Regions from separate parts of the Homo sapiens genome. Here region 1 is linked to region 2. The links come from fine-mapping of genetic effects on gene expression. A gene starts in region 2. The other region holds a variant in brackets. All regions are shown on one strand. Distances are between the middles of the regions.

Region 1 (5,358 bases), 48 kb after region 2:
GCGTTCAGGCAGCCCTGATGGACCGAAGGCTCTGGTGTCTGGTTTGGCCCCACAGCAGTGTGGGCCGATCCTGTTTACCTCATACATCCCTGCACTGTGTGTTTTCATTTTTGTCTGCTTTAGTTCTCTTTTATTTTCTATTCACCACACACTCACCACTCCCAGCTTCTCGTGTCCAGTGAAACCCCTGAACCAAGATCACTGAATTTTTGTTTTTTTCTTGTTGCTTTGGGAAATTTTTTTTTCTCTGTAGGGTTTTTAAGAGGTTTCGGGGGTTTTGTTGTGTAAATATTCTATTTTATTCTTGGGGGGATCAAACCTTAGGAAAAGGATATCTATATATCTATATAGCTATATATTTGTGTTCCTTCAGGGAAACTGGTCTTGAAAAAGCAAGAAAAAAAAGCAAAAAAAAAAAAAAAAAAAAAAAAAAAAAACTCACCTTTTTATTTTTCCCATGACCAATTTGGGTCCCTTTGTCCATTTCTGGGGGTGCGTTGGGCAGCTGTGAGCCCAGCACATCGGATCCCTGGGGCTAGAGCCGCGGAGCCAATGAACTCAGGTGCTATGGGCCGGGCTGGGGCAGAGGGTGCATGCTGGGGTCCCACCGGCCAGGGGCCCCTGACAGTGAATTGCTGACTGTGATATTCCACGATGCTTTTGCTTGTGCCGTGCTTGTCTGCTGGGCTCTCGAGTCAGGGGCCTGGAAATTTTTTTTTTTTTTTTTTTTTGAGACGGAGTTTTGCTCTTGTCGCCCAGGCTGGAGTGAGTGCAATGGTGCGATCTTGGCTCACTGCAACCTGCACCTCCCAGGTGCAAGCGATTCTCCTGCCTCAGCCTCCGGAGTAGCTGGGATTACAGGCGCCCGCCACCACGCCCAGTTAATTTTTGTATTTTTAGTAGAGATGGGGGTTTTGCCATGTTGGTCAGGCTGATCTCGAACTCCTGACCTCAGGTGATCTGCCCGCCTTGGCCTCCCAAAGTGCTGGGATTACAGGCATGAGCCGCCACGCTGGCCCGGTCTGGAAATCTTATCTAAAAAGTAGCAAGTGCTGGAAAAAGGGCCTGGGGGGCGGGGGTGGTTCTTGTCGAAGCCCCCAGGCTCCTGTCTCAGGGATGAATGTGGCGTCTCATTGGGATTCTTCTCTTGCCCGAAAGGGCTGCTTTTGAGGACTATCAATACTGGGGAGTGGGGGTGAAGCCGGACCTCACTCAGGGTGAGGATTTCAGGGCCCCGGCATCCTGAACACCCCCCACACCCCAACATTCTCCTCGCTCTGTCCCTTCCTCTTCTCCCAACCCCTTTTGTGCTGGGGCTGCGAGCTCCCCGAGTTCTGCGGTGACTAAATCGAGGCCGAGAAGGGAGGCTGCCCCCCACCACCCTGTGGGTCAGTACCCCTCCCCCTGGCTTGGAGAAAGTGGGGTCACCGCAGCTGAGCTGGGGGGTTATTTTGGCTGGAGCTGCTGGAGCAGAAAGGCTGGGTCTGAAATGCCCAGCAGGGTCTGGGGACTTCGTTGGACCCGCGTGGTGTTGGGCGGGGCTGTCGTGTCCTACACGGGAGCTCTGGGCTTTCATTTCTCTTGGGGTGCAGTGGGGATTAACTCAGCTATTCCCAGGGTAAGCCTGGGTCTCTAATTGGGCCCTGGGAGCCCTGTTAGGCCACCGGCATGGGGGCTTGGTGAGGAAGGGGACTCCCCAGCTCCCCCCACTCCCAACCACCTCCCCATTGCCTTGGAGACCCCTGGGGAGGGGGCTGGGGGGCTTCTGAGCCCCTGAGTCTAGGTTCACTTTCCCGTCGGGCTGTGGGAGGGGACTGTCACTTTCCTGTGTCTTTGGGGAGGGGACCCCCACTTCCTTCTCGGATCTCAGGGCCGTGGACACACACCCCCTTTCCAGGAGGGGGTGGTGGGCGTCTAGGTTTTCCTTGTCCCTTCCTGGGGCCAGCACCGTAGCAGCACAATCACCCCGGGAAGGGGGTGTCTGTTTGCCTCCAGACACAATCGGGCCCCACTCGCAGAACCACCTGGACTCTGTCCGTGTCTGTCCCCCGGCCTCCAGGGCTCCTCTCCCGGGACCCCCGTCCCACGCCTGGGCCCCGCGCCGGGGGAAGCGCCTGCTGCCTATCTCTGTCTACCTCAGGTCTGACTTTTGATGCCAAAATCTGAGCCCCTGGGGTGCCTCTCCCCCGCCTCCCGTGCACCAGGGTCTGCAGCAGCCACTGGGGCCTGGCTGCCTGCTGCATCTGGCGGCCCTGGACCCCTGGGGCCCCCGTGCACCTGCCCACCTCGGAGCCTGGGGAGGGGC[C/T]GTGCAGGGTCGAGGGCTGGGTCGTCTCCCTCGGGCTGCGTGTGTGTGTCGGGAATCCTGCGTGTCGTGTCTGTGGGCGATCCGGCCTCCCGGCGGTGGGTGGACCTGGATTCTAACTCAGAGGACTTGAGCCTGCTGTTAACTCCGATGATTGTAGGGACAGGCGGGGTGGGTGGGGGGTGGGCGCGAGGCTGGGTCCCGGCCCAGGAGAAGGAAGTCGCTGAAGGCAGTGGCCATGCTGGCCGTGGAAATGGGAGGCGGTTGCAGAGGGTCTATGGGGCCCGGTCCTGGATACTCGGCAGGAAGCCGTGTCTGCAGAGGCTCCTCCCTGCCTCAGGTGGCCCCGTTCAACCCCAGCCGTGCCCATCTCCTGCCACCGCCTGTCGGTGGGGGTTTAAATTCGGTGTGGCTTTCTGGGGTGCAGCTCAGCACCCCCCCTTATGCAGACTGGGAGGGGGTCGGGCAGTCCCCTCAGCCACGAGGACCCTGGATGGGTTCTAGTTCACTTGGGACCGTGGGGCCTGGCTGCGTACTGAGTGGGTGCCCCACAGTCAAGGCCAACGGGGGCTCCCCCTGCTCTGAGATGTTGGGAGAAAGGCGGCTTCTGGAACCTTCCGTGGGACCCGTAAGTGGCTGTCCAGAAAGGCGGGAGGGTGGGCACGGGGCACGGGGGGCAGCTGGGGTCGTTGTTAAGGGTCACGCATCTGTACAGTTGAATTTCCTTTCTCTTATCATGTTTTACCCACCTTGTCCCTTTTTTCCCCAATTGTGCTTTTGCATTTTTTTCCTTGGCAAATGTAAACTCAGCCTTTCATTCATGACGTGTGAAATTTCAGTTTCTCTGGAGTTTGTCAGACGGCGTGGGAACCACGCCTGAAACTCAGGTAATAGGAGGAAAAAAAAAAAAACTTAAAAAAATTTTTAAAAAACATAAAACTACTCTCTACCTCTGGCTGGGCCCAGCCTGTCTCGCCCTGGCCGCGGCAGGGTGGCCTGTAACAATTTCAGTTTTCGCAGAACATTCAGGTATTAAAAGGAAAAAAAAAAAAAAAGACAAAAAGACCAAAAAAAAAAAAAAGTGTGATTTTGAAATTTAAAAGAACACTGAAAGTTTACATTTTATAGTAACATTATTATGCAGATTGTATTTAAACTTCAGAAATATTTAAGACGATTGTAACCCTGTAAAGCTGATGAGATATTAAAACGAGACAAAACACTTCTGACTTTTAACAGAAAAGTGTCCTGTGGTGTTTTTTTTCTTTTGGCGTCTCCCCAACCTCCAGCTCCACCCTACACCCCTGCCCAGCACAGCCAGGGGTGAGTGGAAGGGGGTGCTCTATCCCCCTCTGCCCTGCATCGCTCTAGGTCTGGTTCCGGGCGGCAGAGACAGCTACAAAAGCGGGGGTCTGGCCAGGTGCGGTGGCTCACGCCTGTTATCCCAGCACTTTGGGAGGTCTAGGAGGGCGGAATCACCTGAGTTCGGGAGTTTGAGACCAGCCTGACCAACATGGTGAAACCCCATCTCTACTAAAAATACAAAATTATCCGGGCGTGGTGGCGCGTGCCTGTAATCCCAGCTACTCCGGAGGCTGAGGCAGGAGAATTACTTGAACCCAGGAGGCGGAGGTTGCAGTGAGCCGAGATTGCGCCACTGCACTCCAGCCTCGGCGACAAGAGGGAAACTCCATCAAAAAAAAAAAAAAAAAAAAAAGCAGGGGTCCTCAGCCAGGGTCTGTGCCCCCAGGGGGACCCTGGTCCATGTCTGGGGGCATTTGTGGTTGTCACGCCTGGGGGGGCGCTCCTGGTGTGGAGTGGGTGGAGTCCTGGGATGCTGCTCGGCACCCTGAGTGCCCAGGACGGCCCCACCGCAGAGAACAATCTGGCGCCCAGCATCCACACTGCAGGAGTTGGGAAATTCTGCCTTCATTATTTAAGGTGGGGTAAAAACAGTTCTCCCTGCCCACAGCAGACACCAGGATAAGCTCCTGACAGGGCAGACGGTGTAAACCCGGGGGAACCCAGCTCCTGGGACTCGCCTCCTCTCTCCCTCCCTACTCAGGGCATGGATTTCAGTGTGTGCAGCCTCCTGGGACCCCAGCAGGGCCGAGGATCATGGGATGCAGAGTCTGTAGGGGGTCCATGGAATCCCCTAACCCAGAGGGCCTTAACCAGGGTGATTCCGCCCCCAGGGGACCCTGGTCCATGTCTGGGGACATCTGTGGTTGTCCCATCTGGGGGGAGCTCCTGACATGGAGTGGGTGAAGTCCAGGGACGCTGCTCGGCACCCTGAGTGCCCAGGACGTCCCCACCCCAGAGAAGGATCCAACCGCAAGGTCCACAGGGCCGAGGGGAGCTCCTGGAGGCCGCTCTGGGCACCTCTGTGCCTCGCTGAGAGCCCGACACCAATCCCGTTTTAGGGATTTGGGATGACAGGTGTGGCAGGGCCAGTGTGCGCACCCCCAGCCACCTGCCCACGAGCCTGACCCCTCGCCTCCTGCCTCAACAGGGCTCTGCATGCGGGCGCCCCTGGCGTTATCCGACCGGAGCTCCCAGGGCAAGTGGCCCGGTCCGGCCTCAGGGCCTTCACACAGCTGTTCCACCGCCGGGAACAGCCCTCTCCCCCTTTGCTCTGACAGACTCCTTTCCATCCTCTGCAGCCGACACACAGTCCCCGCCTGCCCATGACAGGAGGGTGCGGCCCCTCGGGTGGGAGGCACGGGGCTCCCCGCTCCTCCGCCCTCTGTGCGGCCCAGATGGAGGCCCTTGTGCCGAGCGGGACACCCTGTTCCCGAGCCCCCCATAAGTTTGCCCTCCTTCACCTCCTAGGCGAGCCCAGGAACCAGCCCACTGGTGAAGCCGCCTGGAGCTGAGGCCTCTGGGGTTCAGGGGCGTCCTGGTGGCTGGGGGAGGGAACTTTTCCAGTGCTGGCCACATTTTCACCTTTTCCCTTACAACACCATTCGGGTCCTAGGAAACAAGACCAAGGGCCAGATTTGGCCCCTGGACAGCCAGTTTGCAGCCCCCAAACCCAGAACATAGTAAAGGGACTC
Region 2 (5,363 bases):
GCCCTGGGGGTAATTATGCCCCCACCCTGTGCCCTTCCCTTTGAACAAAGGGCAGCCTAATCCAGAACAGGATGGTGAAAGGGTTGAATTAACATTGGCCCATTTTATAGAGGGATAAACTGAGGCACAGACAGGCCCATGCACCTGCCCTCCAGGTGCCTTTCGGGTCTGCTGGCCTCCAGGTGCTCCATCGTAGGTGGGAGGGACTTCCTGCACCTTCAGACCTGAGCTGGGTCCTGGCCCGAGAAGGGGGTACTCCCACACCCCTTTATCCCGCTGCAGGGAGCGTCTCTCCAAAGCACCCCCAACCTGGGGCAGGTGTCTCAGGCCTCTCCATCGGAGATAGGGGTGGCAGCTGGGTTTGGTGTTTAATATAGCCTTATGGTGGAGGCCTCTCAGACACCTGCCGCCATTAGGTTACACGTGGCCCTGGGGCTGGAAGGCTGGATTCAGGCCTTGTTGTCGGGGGCAGCTCTCCTGCCGGCAGTTTTTTGTTTTGTTTTGTTTTTGAGGTGGAGTCTCACTGTGTCACCCAGGCTGGAGTGCAGTGGCGCGATCTCGGCTCACTGCGACTTCCACCTCCCGGATTCAAGCGATTCTCCTACCTCAGCCTCCCAAGTAGCTGGGACTACAGGCGCGCGCCACCATGCCCGGCTGATTTCTGTATTTTTAGTACAGATGGGGTTTCACCTTGTTGGCCAGGCTGGTCTCGAACTCCTGACCTCTGATGATCCGCCCACCTCCGCCTCCCAAGGTGTTAAGATGACAGGCGTGAGCCACCGCGCCGGCCCCGGTTGCAGTTTTGTGGAGGGAGGAGGTGCAACTAGGTGGAAGGACAGAGAGAAAGTTGCAATGCCGTGTGCTAGTCTAGGGAAAGGGGAGGGAGACGACTACAACCCCGCCCCCAACACTCAGGACCGGGGACCCGAGCCCGCCAGAGACCCTCCACAAGTGAGGGTCCCCCGGGGTGGCCCCTGCCCGCCCTCCAGGCTCCCCTGGGGCTCACGTCCGGGCTGGAGCCTGGGCCTCTGCGCTTAGCCCCCTGGGGTCGCTTCCCGCGCACACAGCTCCCTGCAGAGCACGCGTCCCCCTCCCGACCGCCTTCCTTGCACCCCGCTCGGTGCCTCAGTTTCCTGCTCTGCGCAGTGGCGACAAGAAGGTTGCCAACTACAGAGAGGAGTGAGGGCTGGAGACGTGCAGGGACCTCCCTGGAGGGAGGCGCGGGGCACGTGGTTGGGCAAGCGACCGCTCAGACCGTGTAAGTCATCACCACCTTCACGGGGGGGTGGTGGGCAGCCGAGCTCCCGACGCTGGTGACAGCCGGGCCGGGCAGGGTCGTCCTGGTTTCACAAAGGGGCTCCGGGTCCCAGCGCGCACCTCCCCACGCCCGCGCCGAGCCCCCGTCTGCAGCCCGTCCCTCCCCAGAGGGAGGCCGGCGGGACCCTGGTTCCCTCCCTCCGACGCCGCCCGCCCAGCTCTGCACCGGGTCTTTCAAGCCCATTTCTCAGACTTGGAAACGGCGGCTCCGGAGAGTGAAGTCACTCTCTCAGGGTCTCTCCGTCTAAGGGGCGAAGGTGAAACTCCGAGTCCACGAGGCCCAGCGTAGGTGCTCCGTAAGAAGGGAAGAGACTTGGTCCCGGATCTGGCTCCGATGCCTCCGGCCAGCCCGCCCAGGCGGAGCCCCAGTCAGTCCCCTCTTCTTCCCCCGGGGCGCTCCCGCCCCAGCCCCTGCCCCCGGCACCCTCTGCGCTTGGGGCCGCGTCGCGCACTTTGCCCACCGTCCCTAGGCCGGGGGCGGGGCCTCCCGCGGCGCTGTTCCCCTTCCCGTTTATTATTTATTATCCTTTAAAGGGGCCGCGACCTGAAAATTTCCGTCCACTCTGCCCGGCTCCCCAGCGCCCCCGGGCTGGTTGCGCGTCGTCAGACCGCGGGAGGGGGGCGAGGGGGCGTGCGGGGAAAAGTGGGGAGCCCTGGCGAGGCCCTCCCGCGCCCGGGCCGCGGCGCTGAATCACCGGCCAGGTATTTGCATCCGAGAGCGACTCGTCCCCTGGTGATTTGTCTGGGGGTGGGGGAGGGGCGGGGCGGGGGCCGGCCGCGCGCGGGGCGCCTCTTACCAATCGGGCGGAGGGGTGTAGACGCGGACGCGGCTGGCGGCTCGGTGAGTCGGCGCGCGGCACAGCCCCGTGGGTCGGGGGCCGGGAGCCAGCGGCGCGCACCGGCGGCTGGAAGCCAGGCGGGCCCGGGCAGGCCGACCCCAGGCGCGGGGCGCGCGCCCCACTACGAGCCGCCCTGCGCGGTAAGGCTGGGGAGCGCGCTGGCCGTTCCCAGCGCGGGTTCCGGTGCCGGGGTGGGCGCAGTGCGTCCTGGAAGCCAAAGAAGGGGGTCCCCAAAGTTGGGCGGAGATGTTGGTGGGGGTCCCGGACTGGGAAGGCGGCCCTGGCGGGCTGGGGTTCGGGGAGTTTTCTCTGCACCCCGCTTGGAGACTTCACTCCCCACTGGATCAATCGCTCAGGGGCGAGCAGGGGCGATCGGGGGTCGCGAGTGCGCGCCCCCCCCTCCCCAGCGGAAGGAAATGGTCTCTGCGCGCGCGCGGGGGGCTGCACCCCGATATTTTATTTCATTTTTATTCTTTCTCCCCGAAATCAGGGATTTATTCGGGAGCCCAGAGAGGAGGGAGGGTAGTTCCCGGCGAGCCTCCCCAGCCGGGCTGGTTTATTTATAAAGTGTCCGCCCCAGCGCAGAGAGGGGCCCCCGGGGGAGACACCGCGGCCCCCGGGCGCCGGGGTGGGTTGGGCCCGGGCGCCCGGTTCCTCGGCGGGGATACCCAGGAAGAGCCCCCTGACCCGTTTCAGGGCCCCCCAGACACAAAAGCGGGCGCAGGAAGCGCTGGGAGCGCGCGTTTGTCAACTCCAACGCTCGGCGCCGGCCCCGGGCGGCGGGTTCAATTATCTTCCGTTTTTAGGCGCTCGGGCTGGAGGGGTTCCCCCCCCCATGCAAATCGGCCGCTTTCCAAGAAGCCTTTGAAATCCGGACCAGGGTTTCTGTCTTCTTATTTCTTCTCCTTCTTGAGTTTTTTTCTCACTTCCTCCAGGCCCCCCCAACCCAGGACTTTCTTAGCCCCCTCCCCAGCTTTCTGCCCCGCCCCTCCCCCTCCTCTTCCCTTCGTGGAGTGAGGGGCCCCTTTCGCCACCCGCGGGCCCGGGGCCTTGCACAACTCTTTAAATAACCATGTTTTGCAAGGCCCGCGCCGAGCGGGTGACCTCTCTCCGGAGGCCTGGGGGGAGGAGGGTGTGGCCCAGGATCCCTCCGCCCCCCACCCCTGCCTGGTCCAACGACCACCCAGCGCCCCGTCCCAGCCTCTCCCTTGGGGCTGTCATAAAATGGGGGTGGGGGTCGAGGACAAAGGGCTCTTGGGGGGAGGGGTCTGAAGGGGGTGGGCGTAGCTAGTTTAGGGTTATGGCGGCGATGGGGGGGCACCCAGCCCTGACCTAGGGGGGAATCTGGGATCCCCACCTGCCCCCTCCACCGGCCCCAACGTGGAGGTCTGTCCTGCTCCCCTCCCCCACCCGGCGACCCGGAAGGGTCATTAAACCCAGCAGGGCTCGGAGCGGGCTGGTGGGGGGAGTGGCTTCCTTTGGCCTCTTCCTTCTGTGCCCCCAAAGAGGGGGGGCTTTGCTTGGAGCTCTTCCGTGGGGGGGGCCTTGTCTTGAAGTTGTCCCAGGTGGGGGAGGGGCGACAGACCCGACCAGACCCTGAGTCAGAAATGCCCCCTCAGCACTTTCTTGGGTTGGGTGGGTGGGGGGTGACCTCCAGCCTGGGGATGGGGGGCTGGGTGCCGCCCTGGTGGCCTCCGGACCGCCAGGCTCTCCTGGTCACAACCCAGCGCTATGGCCCTGAGGTCTTTGTGACCTGGGACCTCTGTCCCCACAACAGATGGAACAGAGGCTATTTTGGAACATGCCCTCCTCGCTTTCTCCCAGGGGCCACCCACCTGCCCCCCACTGCCTTTTCACCCATGGGGCCGAAAGACTCAGGGGTCTGGGTAAAGGGTGTCTAGGGCAGAGGGGCCACAGGACTCTCTTGTCCGGTGACTGGGGAGGCTTGGGGGTGTCTGCTGTGCAACACTGACCTGGGTGGGGTCGGGTCACAGGAGGGATCTGAGTCCCAGGGGTCCCTGCCTCCTCGTCTCTCCAGGCCTTGTCTGCCCAGGAGCTGTGTATGAGTCTTGGGGGCTCCTTTGCCAGGGTAAGGGTTGGGGGTGGCCTCCTGGGCCCAGCTGCCTCTCGGGAGGGTGGAGCTTTGCCCCCTCCGCTGTCCCCATGATGTGCCTTCCCTCTGGGGTGTCACTCCAGGCCTGTTGGGTTCTGCCCGGCCTGTTTTATTGGCGGCCTGGGCGGGTGGAGGTGTGGCCTGGGCTAGGGGGTGGCTCGGGTGGGACCCAGGCCCCAGGAGTCTCTGTTCTTCACCCAGGCCATTAGGACTGGCCCTGGGTGGAAGGCACTCTAGGCTGGGTGAGTGTGTTGCCGTCCGAGACATCTGGCCCACTCGGGATCCCAGAGGACCGGGAAACTCCAGACCCCTGTTGCCCTGCAGAGATTGTGGGGTCTGCGTGGGAGGCTCTGTGGTCACCCAGACCTGGGTTCAAATCCCACCGCCATGTCTCCAAGCAGAGGATCCCTGAGCCTCAGTTGTCCTCAACCATGAAATGGGACCGCCCTGGTGCCCCCTTCTCTGACACCTGTTGGTGCCCACCTTAACCTCCTGAACTCGATTCATCCCTCCTTGAGTGCCATGGGTTGGGGGGGTACTGTTACCCACACTGTTTTGCAGGTAGGGAACCTGAGGTCCAGAGAAGTTGTGGCTTGGGCGTTGCTGTTGAGTTGTGTGATGGGGGGAGGGTTAGCCCAGGGCCCGTATACAACAGGCGCTCAATCTCCAGTCTGGCCTGAGATGGGAGGATACCTAGATACCTGGAGGCCAGGCTGGGCCGCTCCAACAGGGACTCAGGCAGCGACTGGAACTTAGAACCCACCTGACTGGGGCCCGGAGCCCGCTGGCCAATCACAGGCCAGGAACGCCCATTCCCCCACCCTGCTTGTGAAGCAATAATCCAAGATCTCCTGGGGCAGACAGTCTGGCCACAGCGTGTTTCTCTGTGGCCCCGTGCGGGGCGACCTTGCTACCCAGGCCCACAGTAGGCTGTATGCGAAGAGCCTGCGCCTCTGCCTCCAAGAAGGCCTCCAGGTCTGCATCCTGCATGAGATGGACATGAGAGCTGATCCCCAGGGCCTTCATGGGGAAGGAAGGAGGGGGCTTGAGGAGCTCAGGCCTGCTCTGACTGTGCCTTTTTTCCCCCTCAGGTT

What was found.
Region 1: its variant is fine-mapped to the expression of ARID3A in fibroblasts (GTEx, PIP above 0.99).

Annotation. Positions count from the first base shown.
Region 1 is chr19:972,395-977,752 of GRCh38, forward strand. It overlaps ARID3A (AT-rich interaction domain 3A), which reads left to right. Exons shown (of 9, transcript NM_005224.3): 9 at 1-3,545. Among named protein-coding and RNA genes, the nearest start is that of WDR18, 9.3 kb to the right of the region's middle. The variant C/T (reference allele first, on the strand shown) is at 2,306.
Region 2 is chr19:923,902-929,264 of GRCh38, forward strand. It overlaps ARID3A (AT-rich interaction domain 3A), which reads left to right and starts at 2,134. Exons shown (of 9, transcript NM_005224.3): 1 at 2,134-2,158; 2 at 5,361-5,363. RefSeq lists silencers at 994-1,083, 1,174-2,103, 2,194-2,263, 2,684-2,923, 2,911-3,103 and an enhancer at 2,308-3,068.